Linked DNA regions of Homo sapiens. The protein of the gene in region 1 purifies or fractionates together with the protein of each later gene. This does not show direct contact. Each region holds a gene or a part of one and is shown on either strand. Other genes may lie near its edges.

The links. Proteins that work in one complex are often made in the same cells at the same time.
Region 2: the proteins of LIPC (region 1) and ATP4A purify together in Homo sapiens (affinity purification with mass spectrometry; 2 studies listed by BioGRID and IntAct, with this or other methods). This does not show direct contact.

What each region holds. Positions count from the first base shown.
Region 1 is NC_000015.10:58,427,120-58,435,312, reverse strand, and holds the start of LIPC (hepatic triacylglycerol lipase precursor), read right to left. Parts: upstream 3,323-8,193; 5' UTR 3,281-3,322; coding exon 3,193-3,280; intron 413-3,192; exon of another isoform or gene 1-412. UniProt on the Homo sapiens protein: Catalyzes the hydrolysis of triglycerides and phospholipids present in circulating plasma lipoproteins, including chylomicrons, intermediate density lipoproteins (IDL), low density lipoproteins (LDL) of large size and high density lipoproteins (HDL), releasing free fatty acids (FFA) and smaller lipoprotein particles.
Region 2 is NC_000019.10:35,548,923-35,553,948, reverse strand, and holds the end of ATP4A (potassium-transporting ATPase alpha chain 1), read left to right. Parts: intron 1-119; coding exon 120-243; intron 244-766; coding exon 767-912; intron 913-2,368; coding exon 2,369-2,502; intron 2,503-2,837; coding exon 2,838-2,939; intron 2,940-3,023; coding exon 3,024-3,115; intron 3,116-3,305; coding exon 3,306-3,334; 3' UTR 3,335-3,918; downstream 3,919-5,026. UniProt on the Homo sapiens protein: The catalytic subunit of the gastric H(+)/K(+) ATPase pump which transports H(+) ions in exchange for K(+) ions across the apical membrane of parietal cells.

The DNA of each region.
Region 1 (8,193 bases):
TTCAAACAAAGCAATACATCACAACAGACTGAGTACAGAAACAGGTAAGATAATCCAGCTGTCTTGGGAAGCCAGATATTAGAGAGATTTGCAACATTTCTTTGTAAAACAATGTCACTCTTCTCCATTTAAAACTTATTTGGAAAATACAAGTTATTTTTCATAAAATTACATTATATGTGTTAATATGCAAGGGTTTATTATCATTTTAAAAAGTGTTAGCAGATTTTAAAGATTTCTCAGTTTTAATTTCTAATGAAGGAAATATTGATATCTCACATAATAAACACTGTTTGGGGTCCTCAGTGATTTTTAAGAGAGGAAACGTGTGAACAGAGTGTGTGAGTTGTACTCAGGCACTGCGTTACGTATGGCAGGTGCTCATGTATGCTTGTGACACTCATGAGGGACTGACTGAATAGGTAGCTTTCAGCTGCTCCTAGGATTTGCAAGCTGAGGCTGGGGTGGAGGGGAGGGAGAAGGTGCCTGTTGATAGTGGGCCCAGTACCGGGAAGGTGGGACTTGCCAGGGTCTAGGAGCAGCGTTGGCTCTCATGGCAACACCGACTGGGGAACCTGGGTCTCAGGCATTGGGGCTGGGCATAAGTGTGATGTGCCATGTGGGCTTCAAGCAGCTCACGCTATCCAGTCCCCCTTAGTGCTGAAGGGCAGGAACAACTGTCTAAATCTCCCTCTCTGTGAGAGGAACTGAGCAGAATGTTTTTCTAGAAACCTCTGGCTGTCAAATCACTGGGTGTGGGCTCGACACAGAGCACTGCGGCCTCAGTAGACAGATTGAGGCTGCAGGTACCTCTCCCTGCTCTGCCCTGACCAGCTATGCGACCGCCGGCAAGGCACTTAACTGCCAGCTTACTCAACCATATGGTGAGGATGAGATAAAATGTCCGTGGAGTGCCTGGCACATGCTGGGTGTGCAGCACATTAGTGACTCCATTAGTAAGATGTCATTAATAATAAATACTCAAAAGAAGTAGGCTGGGAGGAGGGGCTAAAGAGGAAGGGTCCTTGAGGGAGTACTTCCTGGTGCTCGATGAGTGACAGTTGAAGCTTGGCATAGATCATGGTTTCTCAGCCTCTGCACTAATAATGTTTTGGGCCAGACAATTCATTGTTGTGAGGGCTGTCCTGTGCATTGTAGGATGTGAAGCAGCTTCCCTGGCCTCTACCCACTAGATGCTGGAAGGGAAGCACTCTCTCCCTGGTCTTAACAACCAAAAACCAAAAATGTCTCCAGACATTGCCAAGTGTCCCCTGGAGGGCAAAATTGCCCCTGTTGAGAACCATTGGTGTAGAAACTTTCCTGACAAGGGCTCCACCACAGGACACCGGCTTCCCTGCGGTTTCCCCAGAAAGACATCATACCAGCCACATGCACACAGATTGGGCTCACTCATTGCAGAAAGAATTCTGCCAAGAGATTCTGCTTCCAAGAGAACAAGAGGCCTCCTGACTTGGATCCTCTTTTCTGAGGAACCCTCTTGCTAATAGTGGCCACTTCTCTCAGCATTTGCACAAACTAGGCCCCGGGGAAAGAAGCAGGCTGATCAGGACAATGAGATTGCTCAAGGAAAATCTGGACAATACCCAGAAGCCTGGGGGAGGCCATCCCTCCCTTCAACCTCTATCTCAGCACTGACAGCTTCCAATTCCCATGGCTCCATTGCAAAAACAGTCCTGGCCAATCCACAGTAGAATGGATAAAGGAAGTGTGGCATGGTCCCGCAGTGGAATGCTACAGCAGTGAGAATGAATGAGCCTCAACTCCACGAAACTGCATGGTTGACTTTCACAAACATAATGTCGAACGAAAGAAGCCAGACGCAAAAGAGCAACTGATGTGTTTCTATTAATGAAAAATCTCCCCAAAGGAAAAAATCATATATGTTAAGGCTCAAGGGGCACACAAGGAAGGCTTTGGGGTACTGGTTCAGTTTGTGAGAACTCATTGAGGATTTATGATAGAGGCCCTTTTCTAGAAGTGTGTTATAAACTTCATTAAAAAGTAAACAAACAAATACAACATTCCGGGGCAAAGGGCAGGAAAGGCCCTTTAGCAAAATCACTATGAACCAAGGGAATAAAGATTACCAGCAATTTTACCTGTATGGCTCTAAATTATTATGTAAGGGTCATTTTTGGATGTGGCTTTATAAATGAGATGATGTGTCAAAAATAATTAGTATAGTGCTTGGCACAGAAAATACTTAGTGAATGGCAATAATTAATACTGCTACTCAGTTATTAACTGGCCTATGAAGTAAAATAGTCAAATACAAAGGAACAGCCTTTTTCTTAAAGGGGAAAAAAGCTTCTGAAATTTTTAGGTACATCCCGTTAGGGAATTTCTAATTCTCAAAGTTGTCGGAGCTCTCTCCAAGGCTAGTCTTAGAGAAAAGAAAAATCTCAGACTCTACCTTAGCGTTACTAGCTCCTGACCAGTAACCAGTACCAAAACAAATTCCCAAACACCTGTCTAGTCTGGCCAAATTGTTCAATTAACTGATCCGTCATTTATTGGTCCACTGCTTAGCCTGGAAGCTGGGCTCCACTCTACTACCTTCCTGATAAGGCATTTGATCTGTCTTTCGCCATCAATCTAGTTTGTGAATTTACAAACAAAACAGGCAGGACGGCTGTTGGATTCTTCAGCCTCAGACTAAAATTTTGGCAGCAAAACAAAGTCTAGAAATTGTGCAATGATATCTCTACTTTAGACCTGACTGGAAATAGAACTCTCATAAATTCCCCTCTCTTCTGAGAGAGGCAGGCAATTAGACAACCCCAACCCGACAGAGCATTTCATTGCAAGCCTGGCTCCCCGGTTGCAAATTAGATGCCACATTAACTCTCAGGAAGATCTGAATCGCTTTCATATCATTTGCCGCTGAATAACTTTTAGCATGACTGTTTCCATATCAGATACGCAAGAGACTTCACTGCTAGCTGCAGGCACTCTTAGAAGACTTTTAATCCGAGGATGATTTTCTAAAATTTCATTTCTGTTTACAAACGGCTACGTGTCCCTGTGAACCTGTGAGGTCGTGTATAGAACCACCTGGCACGCTCTGAAGCAAGCTCTGTCCCATACAGTCAGAAACCCCTGGATTCTTTGTGACACACGTTTTAAAAAGAAAAGTTCATGCCCATCTCTGGAGAAAAGTCAGGCTCTTACCTGGTTTCAGGCTTTGTCCAAGGGCACTTGATTGGATAAAGATGCATAAAACCAACAGAATGGAGAAACACAGGGGACTTGTGTCCATTTCTCCGTTTCACCCGGGGTCCAGGCTTTCTTGGTAATTTCTGAAGCCAAAGAGACCACAATGCCTATTAGATACTTTGTTAGGGAAGACTGCCCATTAATAATTAACCTCTCAACATGTTATCCACTGTTCAGACCCTTTCTTTACTGCCCCCAACTGCAAATCTAATTATATCTATTTTAAAAAGGTCGATTTACAGAAGTGCTTCTTATCCTGACACATTTTGAGAATAAAATACCTTGTTATGTATTCTTACCTTTTGGGGCCAAGGTCAGAGTTCCAAATTAATCAACTTAAAGCTACTGTGTTGTGTTTGGAAATTCTGCCAAAGGTCGGGGTAGGTGGCTTCCACGTGGCTGCCTAAGCCTCCCTGTGACAGCGCTGCAAGGGGGATGCTGGCTCAGGAAAGTGGTGTTTCAAATTGCAGCCTAAGCCCAAAGAAAAAGAAAAGGGCCCTGCCACGCAGAGAGCCCCCAGAGGGTCCAAATTTCTGTTGGGTTCAGTGAAATTGGTGATGCTTGTGGTCAAAGTGTGGTGCAGAAAACCCTTCACCCCCGTGTCAAAAGGAGCTGACGAAGAAGCAAAGATGCCCTTGCCAAGTGACCCATTGAGAGGTGATCCTAGAGTAAACACACTTCTTCCCCCTCTGTGTTCATTAATGTTCCAGCTGTGTAGAGGACTGAAAAGTAAGGCCACTCAGCAAAATCAGGTAGGGAAAAGGCGACCATAGATGGCTTTTGTGATATTTTTGGACCTCTAGTTTTACTTTAACTTTCTTCATTTGTTCAACATTTATATATTTTGGTATGCCTACTAGGTGCCAAGCACTGTTGCAGGCACGTGGGGTATACAAGTCCTTATGTATCAGTGGAGGTTCTTACCTTCTGGAGTTGGATAACGGACAGTAGACATAATAAAGAAGAGATTTCTGGCCAGGAGCGGTGGCTCACTCCTGTAATCACAGCACTTTGGGAGGCGAGGAGGGCGGATCACGAGGTCAGGAGTTCGAGACCAGCCTGACCAACATGGTGAAACCCCATCTGTACTAAAAATACAAAAGTTAGCTGGGCGTGGAGGTGAGTGCCTGTAATCCCAGCTACTCAGGAAGCTGAGGCAGGAGAATCGCTTGAACCTGGGAGGCGGAGGTTGCAGTGAACTGAGATCGCGCCATTGTACTCCAGCCTGGGCGACACAGAGAGACTCCGTCTCAAAAAAAAAAAAAAAAAAATTAGGTAGACTGGTAGAATGTAATGGGAACCACTACAAGAAAAGCAGGGGGTTGGGGAGAAGGTAGGGATTTTAAGCAGAGTGGTTAGAGTGAATTGCATTGGGAAGTTAAACTTTCAGCAAAGGTTTGAAGGAAGTGAAGGAGTTGCCCCTGTGGACGTCTTGGGGAGGAGAGCTTCGGGCAGTCTGTGCAAAGGCCCTGAGGTAGGAGTATGCCTGGTGTGCTCCAGGAATAGCAAGGAGGCCAATGAATGGGGAGACATTGTAAGGACTTTGACTTTTATGCATTGACACATGGGGGGCGACTCTGAGCAGAAGGGTGATATGATTTGTATTATAGTTTTAAAATATCACTCTGGTTTGCAAGTGAGCCAGGGTGCAGTGGGGAGATCTGTTAGAAGGCTATTACAGTGGCCCAGTGAGAGGTGATGGTGGCGTGGCCCAGCATGGTAAAGGGCAACTGCGGAGTGGTGGATGGGTGGTGGATATATTTTGAAGGTAGAGCCCACAGGATTTTCTGACTGCTGAGTTGTGAGATGTGGGAGAAAGAGAGGAGTTAAGGATGACTTCCAGGTTTTTTGGCTTGAACAAGCAGATTAATGGGGTTGCTGTCAGCTGAGAAGGGGAAGCTGTGAGTGAAGCAGGTCTGTTGGGGGAAGATTAGAGATTCAGCCTTGGCCACGTGGGGCTTTGAGATGGCTCTTAGACATCCAAGTGGAAACGTTAAGCGGGCAAAATTAGATAACATGGTAATTATTGCCTGGACGAGCCTCATTCAAAGGGCCTTCTGAAGCCACCACCAGACTTGGACGATCTTGACCCAGTCTAAAGCTGTGTTCTGTCCTATGACTGTACCTTCCTCCCAAGCCCCGAAGCTTGCGGACCATCCCGTCAGATATACAATTTCTTTTTCTTTTTCTTTTTTTTTTTTGAGATGGAATCTTGCTCTGTCGCCCAGGCTGGAGTGCAGTGGCGCGATCTCGGTTCACTGCAACTTCCACCTCCCAGGTTCAAGCGATTCTAGTGCTTCAGCCTTCAGAGTAGGTGGGACTACAGGTGCCCACCACCATGCCTGGCTAATTTTTGTATTTTTAGTAGAGACGGGGTTTTACCATGTTGGTCAGGCTGGTCTCTAACTCCTGACCTTGTGATCCACCCACCTCGGCCTCCCAAAGTGCTGGGATTACAGGCGTGAGTCACCGTGCCCATCAGATATACAATTTCTGAGCAAGGACTTCTGCCTTGGATACTTGGCTGGCTCCTGCACAGTTAAGCAGAATCTGAAAGTTCCACTTTTTTTCCTATAAAGCTGGCACGTAAGACCAGCTGGCTACCCATCTCGGGCTCCTCTCCCCTGTGCCCACCCTCATCTCCTCTCCTCTGGGTACTGCCAGTAACCACCGCCACTCCCCATTTTATTCGGGACACAAACTCATCAAAAGACACCAGTGAATCCAAGTGCCTCTGAAATACCAACCGTGTGCCCCCACCCGCCCCCCAAATTTCTGCAGAGTACACTTTCTTACCACTTTCTACGTGGTAAGAACACTTTCAACATGGGAAGAAGCCTTCAAGATTGTTTCTAGCTCTTGTAGTTCCTTTACTTGCACCACCCCAAATTCCTCTAACATCATCTCATGCCAACTCAAATTCTATAAGGCTCTCCTGGAAAATGACAAGGAGGAGTGGGTACCTGTCCCCTTTCAGGGTGTTGTCTGCTTTCACCTCTACCTAAGCTCTTCCAGCCTGCCCCATCACCGGGTCTGACCTTCCAGTGGTGGTTTTAATGCACAAGCTCTGTTGTGTTTTCTTGAAGCTGACCAGGGAGGCTACTGGCAGGGAAGAGGGGAGGACTTCACAGAGTATGAGATTTCCTGAACTGGGGGGGTCCTAGGCCTATCTACTTGCTGTATATAATATTATATAACCTTAATGAGTTCAATCTCCTCACCTATAAAATGGGGACAACATGTATCTGAGATAATATTTTGAGATATCAACTTATTTTTCTCCCAAACTGTCTCCCTTCCACTTAAGAGGGGCAAAGTAGAGAGAAGGCTACAAATCTTTTGTCTTCCAAAAATATAGGACCTTAGGGCAAGTGAATTTTATTTTATTTTATATTATTTTATTTTATTTATTTTAGAGACAGGGTCTTCCTATGTTGCCCAGGCTGGCCATAAACTCCTGGGCTCAAGTGATCCTCCTGCCTTGGCCTCCCAAAGTGTGGGCAGGTGAATTCTAGCCAACAAAGAAAAGCAAAAGACTAACATTTCTTGAGGGGATGTGAAGGGAGAAGGAACCCCTCACCTTGCCATCACTAGAAAGACATTCTCTTGGGCTTTGCAGGTGGTGTGGAAGGGGGAGGTTTGTCTATGGGTCTGAGAGCAGAGGGGACAGTACCTTGCTTCCCAGAAATCCTGCTGGAAGAGAAGAACCCAGGGAGGAAATGGCTGTGTTGGCACATGGGCAAAAGATATACCTGGCTTGATGTAGGGTGGGAGAGCAGTGAGTCTCTGGGGCCAGCAGGTCATGTTGATGGGAGGATGGGCCCCTCAGTGGCCACCAATGTGGACTGATGACAGAGGACTAGGTCACACTCCCCTGACCCCATGCCTGGCTATTGTATTTGTCCAGAACTATGGCATAACTACTGGGGTTGGGGGTGGGGTGGGGAGAAGAAATCCAGAAGGCCTGAAAATAGGGGTTAAGAGTCAGGAATTTAGATGGGTTACAGAGAATAGAGAAATTTATTGCACATCAGAATCTCTGGACTGAAATTAATACCTCTAGGAAAAGAGGTATGCCATGAATATTAGAGATTTGTGTGTAAGGTGTCAAGCCAAGTGCCTGGTTCATAGTAGAGGGTCAATAAATTATAATGACCTATTTTGTGGGCAATATACTTAGTGGTCAAGGGTCCATGCTTTGAGGCTGGGTGCAGTGGGCAGTGGCTCACACTTGTAATCCCAGTGCTTTGGGAGGCTGAGGCAGGAGGATCACTTGAGGCCAGGAGTTTGCGACTAGCTTGGGTAACATAGCAAGACCCCATCTATATAAACATAAAAACCAAAAAATTAGCCTGGTATGGTGGCACACACCTGTAGTCCTAGGTACTTGGGAGGCTGAGGCAGGGATATTACTTGAACCCAGGAGGTGGAGGCTGCAGTGAGCTATGATCACACCACTGCACTCCAGCCTGGGTGACAGAGTGAGACCCTATCTCTAAAAGAAAAAAAAAAAAAGAGTCCAGCCTTGGGAATCCGACAGATACAGGCTTGAATTCCTAGTCTGTCACTTGTGCTTACTAGCTGAGTGAACTTGGATAAGACATTGTGACTGAGCTTTAGTTTTCTTCACCTGTATAATGGGACTAATAATACCTCCCTAGTCTGATTAAGTGAGGCAATGCATGTGAAGCCCTCAGCAATCCTAGGCCACAGGAAATAATTAATGGTAGCTAATTTTTTTTAATGTTTAAATTCACTGAGGGGATCACGAAGGTGTCCAGGAGGTAGATAACAATAAGACCACAGTGATATAATTGTAGCAAAAAATGTAAGGGGCAGGAAAACACAAGGGTCTGGATCAGTGGCTGCAAAATCCAATTGAGCATGAGAATAAGAGTCAGCTGGGGAGCTCAGACAATGACAACTTATGGGCCCATCCCAGGAATACTGAGTAAT
Region 2 (5,026 bases), on another chromosome or scaffold:
GGTCCTGCCTGCTAACCTCAGTCCTGTTCCTGCTCACAAGTGGGGGAAGGGGGACCCGAAGTGGAGGGGACAAGGGCCCAGCCAAACCCTCAGTCCCAGTTCCTTCCACTCCTGGCCAGTTCCCATCTGTGTCCCTGGCATATGAAAAGGCCGAGAGTGACATCATGCACCTGCGTCCACGCAACCCAAAGCGTGACAGATTGGTCAACGAGCCCCTGGCTGCCTACTCCTACTTCCAGATTGGTGGGTGCCCGTGGGCCGGGGAGCCTGGAGGTGGGGGGCTCTGCGCTGGGCTGCTCGCCTGCCCCAGGCCCTGCCTTGGGCTCCGGCTGGTTCTGGACCTCAGTGTCTGCATTTGGTCCTGGGTCTCCGTTGTCCTCCGTGTCCCTCTCTGTTTGTGACAGTCTCTCTGGTTCTGCTGTGTCCCTGCTCTCTCTCTGACCTTGCTCTCCATGACCCTGTCTCTGAGTTGTTGCCTATTTCTGTCTTTTTGGGTCCTGGATGTGTCTTTTTCTCTCTGTCCCTGCCTCTGTCTCTCTGTCCCTGCTTCTCTCTCTGCCTCTGTGTCTCTGTCACTGTTTCTGTGTCCCTGGCTCTGTGTGTCCTTGACCTTGTGTATCTGTGTCCCTGTCTCTCTTCCCGTGTCCCTGTCTGTGTGTCCTTGACCTTTGTGTATCTGTGTCCCTGTCTCTCCATGTCCCTCTCTTCCTGTGTCCCTGTCTCTGTGTCCATCTCTGTCTCCCTGTGTCCCCTTGTCTCTCTCCAGGTGCCATTCAGTCCTTTGCTGGCTTCACTGACTACTTCACGGCAATGGCCCAGGAGGGCTGGTTCCCACTGCTGTGCGTGGGGCTGCGGGCGCAGTGGGAGGACCACCACCTACAAGATCTGCAGGACAGCTACGGCCAGGAGTGGGTGAGCCCTGCCCCGCCCCATCCCATCCCTGGGCTCCCTCCTTCCCAGGGCAACTTGCCTTGTGTGCGGCCCACTTGTTCCTCCACGTGTGACTGAGTTCAGCCAGAGCATCCCGGACCCCCAGACTCCCTGCCAGTTCGGGGGGGCAAGGGCCTTTCCCACCATCTCCAGCTCCAAACTCCTGCTTCTGATGATCGCAACTGCAGATGGGTGTCTCTGCCCTGACACTAATGCATCATCTCAGATGTGGAACCAGGCCCCTATTCTGCTATTTTCCCTACAGCATCACTCCCACAGGGTATTTGCACATGTGGTCTATTTTAATGAAGGTTTGGAGCACAGTGAGGCTAGATCTGGCCAGCAGATGTGTTTAGTTCACCTGTAGAGTTACATACAGACGAGGATACTTCCCTTAAACATTTACTATCATGGTTAAGGTAGACACTGAAGCCAGACTGCCTGGACTTATGGTCTGGTACTGCTTCTCACAAGCTGTGTAACCCTGGGCAGGTTGCTTTGCCTCTCTGTGCCTGTTTTCTCACCTGCAAAGTGGAGAGAATATCAAAGTCTACCTCAGTGGTTTTCAGTTTGCTCCCAGACCAGCAGCATCACCATCTCCTGGGAACATGTTTGCAGTGCAAATTCTCAGGCTCTATCCCAGCCCTCTGGGAGCCCTTGCTGGGATTCTCATGCATGTTCAAGTTCCAGCACCACTGATTTACCTCCTAGGGTTACCCAGCGGATTAAATGAGCTAATGCACGTGCAACACTCGGCACCTGGAGCAGTCAGTGATCCCCACAGTTAGCTGGTATTAGGAGTTGTGTTGCCAGGCATGGTGGCACATGCTTGTAATTCCAGCTACTTGGGAGGCTAAGGCAGGAGAATCTCCTGAACCTGGGATTCGGAAGTTGCAGTGAGCTGAGATTGCACCACTGCACTCCAGCCTGGGTGACAGAGCGAGATTCCATCTCAAAAAAAAAAGTAGCTGTGTTGAAGAAATGGGCTGCATAGTGGCTGCCCCCTTTAAATGGGGCATCTGCCCTCTTTTCCCAAAGGCCCGCGGTGACTGCCTCACCTATTTTTGCCATCTGCCTGGCCCCTGGAGTCACTGGACTTTGCAAATCCCATCTGAGGATTTCAATTCCCCTTTCCCAGGCCCTTTCTTTTGGGTGCCTCCCCCCTTTCACTATGAAAGCAGTCGGCCCAGCCTACAGTTTTCCCGGCCACTGTCATCCAAGCTCTGCTAGGCTGAGGTTTCTGGGCCCCACGTTCTGGGGTCCTGCACACCTGGCAGACCCTGCCTCTCTCCTTCCCCCCACCCCCACACTCTGATGCAAGGCAGAGAGAGCATTTAGGGGTTCACGGCCCTGGGACCCTATGCCCGGTGGGCTGCAGAGGCTCTCCGCCGGGACTCAGGCTGGACTCAGGCTGTTTCCGTTTGCCCCTGGCCTGCAGACATTCGGGCAGCGCCTGTACCAGCAGTACACCTGCTACACCGTGTTCTTCATCAGCATTGAGGTGTGCCAGATCGCCGATGTCCTCATCCGCAAGACGCGCCGTCTCTCTGCCTTCCAGCAAGGCTTCTTCAGGTGTCCCTGGCTGGCCCTCTTCCTGCCCTCCAACCCCTGGTCCCAACTCCCATCAGATCCTGACTGTGGTTTAGAACAGCCGGCAAATGCCAGCGGGTGCCAGTGCCAGATGGTGACATGCCAAAAAAACCTTTCTAACTGGCCAATAACTCCCCCCACGGCCCCCTCCACATTTCACTAAAGGGGTGGTGCTGAGAGGCCCGGGCCACTCCAGTGTTCAGTGTGTAGAACACCTCCCTGCTGCTGCTGACATCTGACCTACTTTGACCCACAGTATCCTGATTTCCATCACGTCCCCAATTCCTAATGGCCTGTCCCATTCTGCCCACCCCCAGGAATAAGATCCTGGTGATCGCCATCGTGTTCCAGGTCTGCATCGGCTGCTTCCTGTGCTACTGCCCCGGCATGCCCAACATCTTCAACTTCATGCCCATTCGGTGAGAGGCTGTGAGGGGCAAGGACAGGGAGGGGGCTGTAGGGCACAGGCCTGGGATGGCCTTCACCTTGCCATGTGCCTTCAGGTTCCAGTGGTGGCTGGTCCCCCTGCCCTACGGCATCCTCATCTTCGTCTATGATGAGATCCGGAAGCTTGGAGTTCGCTGTTGCCCAGGGAGTGAGTGTGGAGACTGGGAGCCTGGGGGCAGGGGACTGAAACGTTTGAGCAGCTGCACCCACCTTTGATCCTCAACACTTGGCCTCTAAGCCCTTGACCCTCCATAGCAACCAGCACTGACCTCTGAGCCCCTGGCCCTGCCTAAGTGGCACCCCCAGCACTGAGTCTCCTTTCTCCCTCTCTCTCCCAGGCTGGTGGGACCAGGAACTCTACTATTAGAGGGACGACTGCCTTCAAGCATCCCTGCAACTGCCACAGCAGGTGGGGGCAGGGCTCGTGGGACCCTCTGGACAGCCACCAAGATATCTGAGCAACCAAGAGTCCCAGCCCCACCAGTATCTGCTTCTGTAGCCCACGGCACCCCAAACTTGGAGGGACCTGCCCACTCCCCTCCCCCATTCCCAAGGTTCGCACCTCCTGGAGCAGCAGCGCCTGGGCAGTCCTCTGGGCTGGCCTCGGGAAAGCCGCCACCTGTGGTGGCGGTGGGGCTCTGACAGGGAGTACAGCTGACCGCTTCTGGAGGGTGTTTCTGTTCTTAGGACTCCAGTCCAGGCTGGACGGCTGCCTGAGGGCCCTTCGTTAAAGACACGCTTGTGTCCTGGGCGATGGTAATAAAACCAGCTCATGCTGACTGTGCTGTATCTGGTGCCAGGCACTGTCCTCAGCGTCTCTCATTAGTGCTTGTGATCTCCCACAGTCCTGTACATGGGGGCTGTTTATCCAGGGCTGCACCTCCAGTGCCTAGTACACAGCCTGGCACATAGTAGGTCCTCAATAAACCTGCCTTGGGGAAATGATTCCTATTCCTTTGCCCAGGGTCATGGCATCTAAACGCAAGCTGGGCCGTGGCGATAGGCACCCCCTACCACCTCTGGGCTTTCTCTGTTCTCAGCACCCTTCTCCCTCCTGGAGGCTCCCAGACACAAGGGGGCCCAAGTCATTTCCACATCAAGCATCCCCCACCCCCCAGCGGTGTCTCCTTTCTGAGCCTACCTGCTTACTCCTCTGTCCCGGCAATGGCCAGTTCCTGAACAACTCCTGGAGGTCCCCTCCTCACACCCCTCACCTGAAAGGTTAACCCCATCCCCCTACCTCCCATCTCTGCCGCTCCTTTCCCAGCCCCTCTGTTCACCTCTCTTCCTCTTTCTTATGTGGCTTTCTCTGGCTAGGGCCTGGGCTTCTCCTTCCTTGTGACCACAGCCCCCCAGTCCCCCATGGCTTCAGTTGTTTCTGCAGTGAGACCCACCTCTGTCCCCAGCTTCCCCCAGTGTTGGTGACCTACACTGGCCTCTTCATCACCCCCCATGCCTGTACCCATGCACTGACCCAATCTGATAGTCCCACTGTCCCATCAGTGTGGTCCCTTCTCCCTTGGAAACGTGGTGAGCCCTCGGGCTTACAAGCCCCAAACTCCAGTTATCCTGGAACTCTTTGCTCCTCCCTTACCTGTTAGCGCCCCCTGCCGGTAAATAAATACACACAGCCACTGATCACCAACACCTGGGCTTGGCTTCTAGTCACTCTCCTAACCCCACAAAGCCCTGCCCTGGTCCAGCCCTGGCCTCGTGGCCTCAGCTTTCCCATTTCAGACAACAGCCATGCAGAGCTTCCTAAAGCCAAATCTGACCCTGTCCTTCCTCTGCCTAGAGCTCTCCTTGGTTCCCAAAGCCTCCTGTGATCTGACCCCTGCCAGCTTCTGTAGTCTTACAAGTCCCCTTGAACTCATTCCAACCAGTTATGTTCCCTTGGGAAAAACAGGCCCCCTCTCTGACCTCAAGACCATTACCTCTGCCTTGCCCCAATCACTCATTCTTTAGGTCTCAGCTCACATGTCCTCTGCTCAGGGGAGCCCGCACTGCTTCCACGGCAGGCCAGGCGGCTCCTCTGGGTCCCCATAACCCGGGGTTTTCC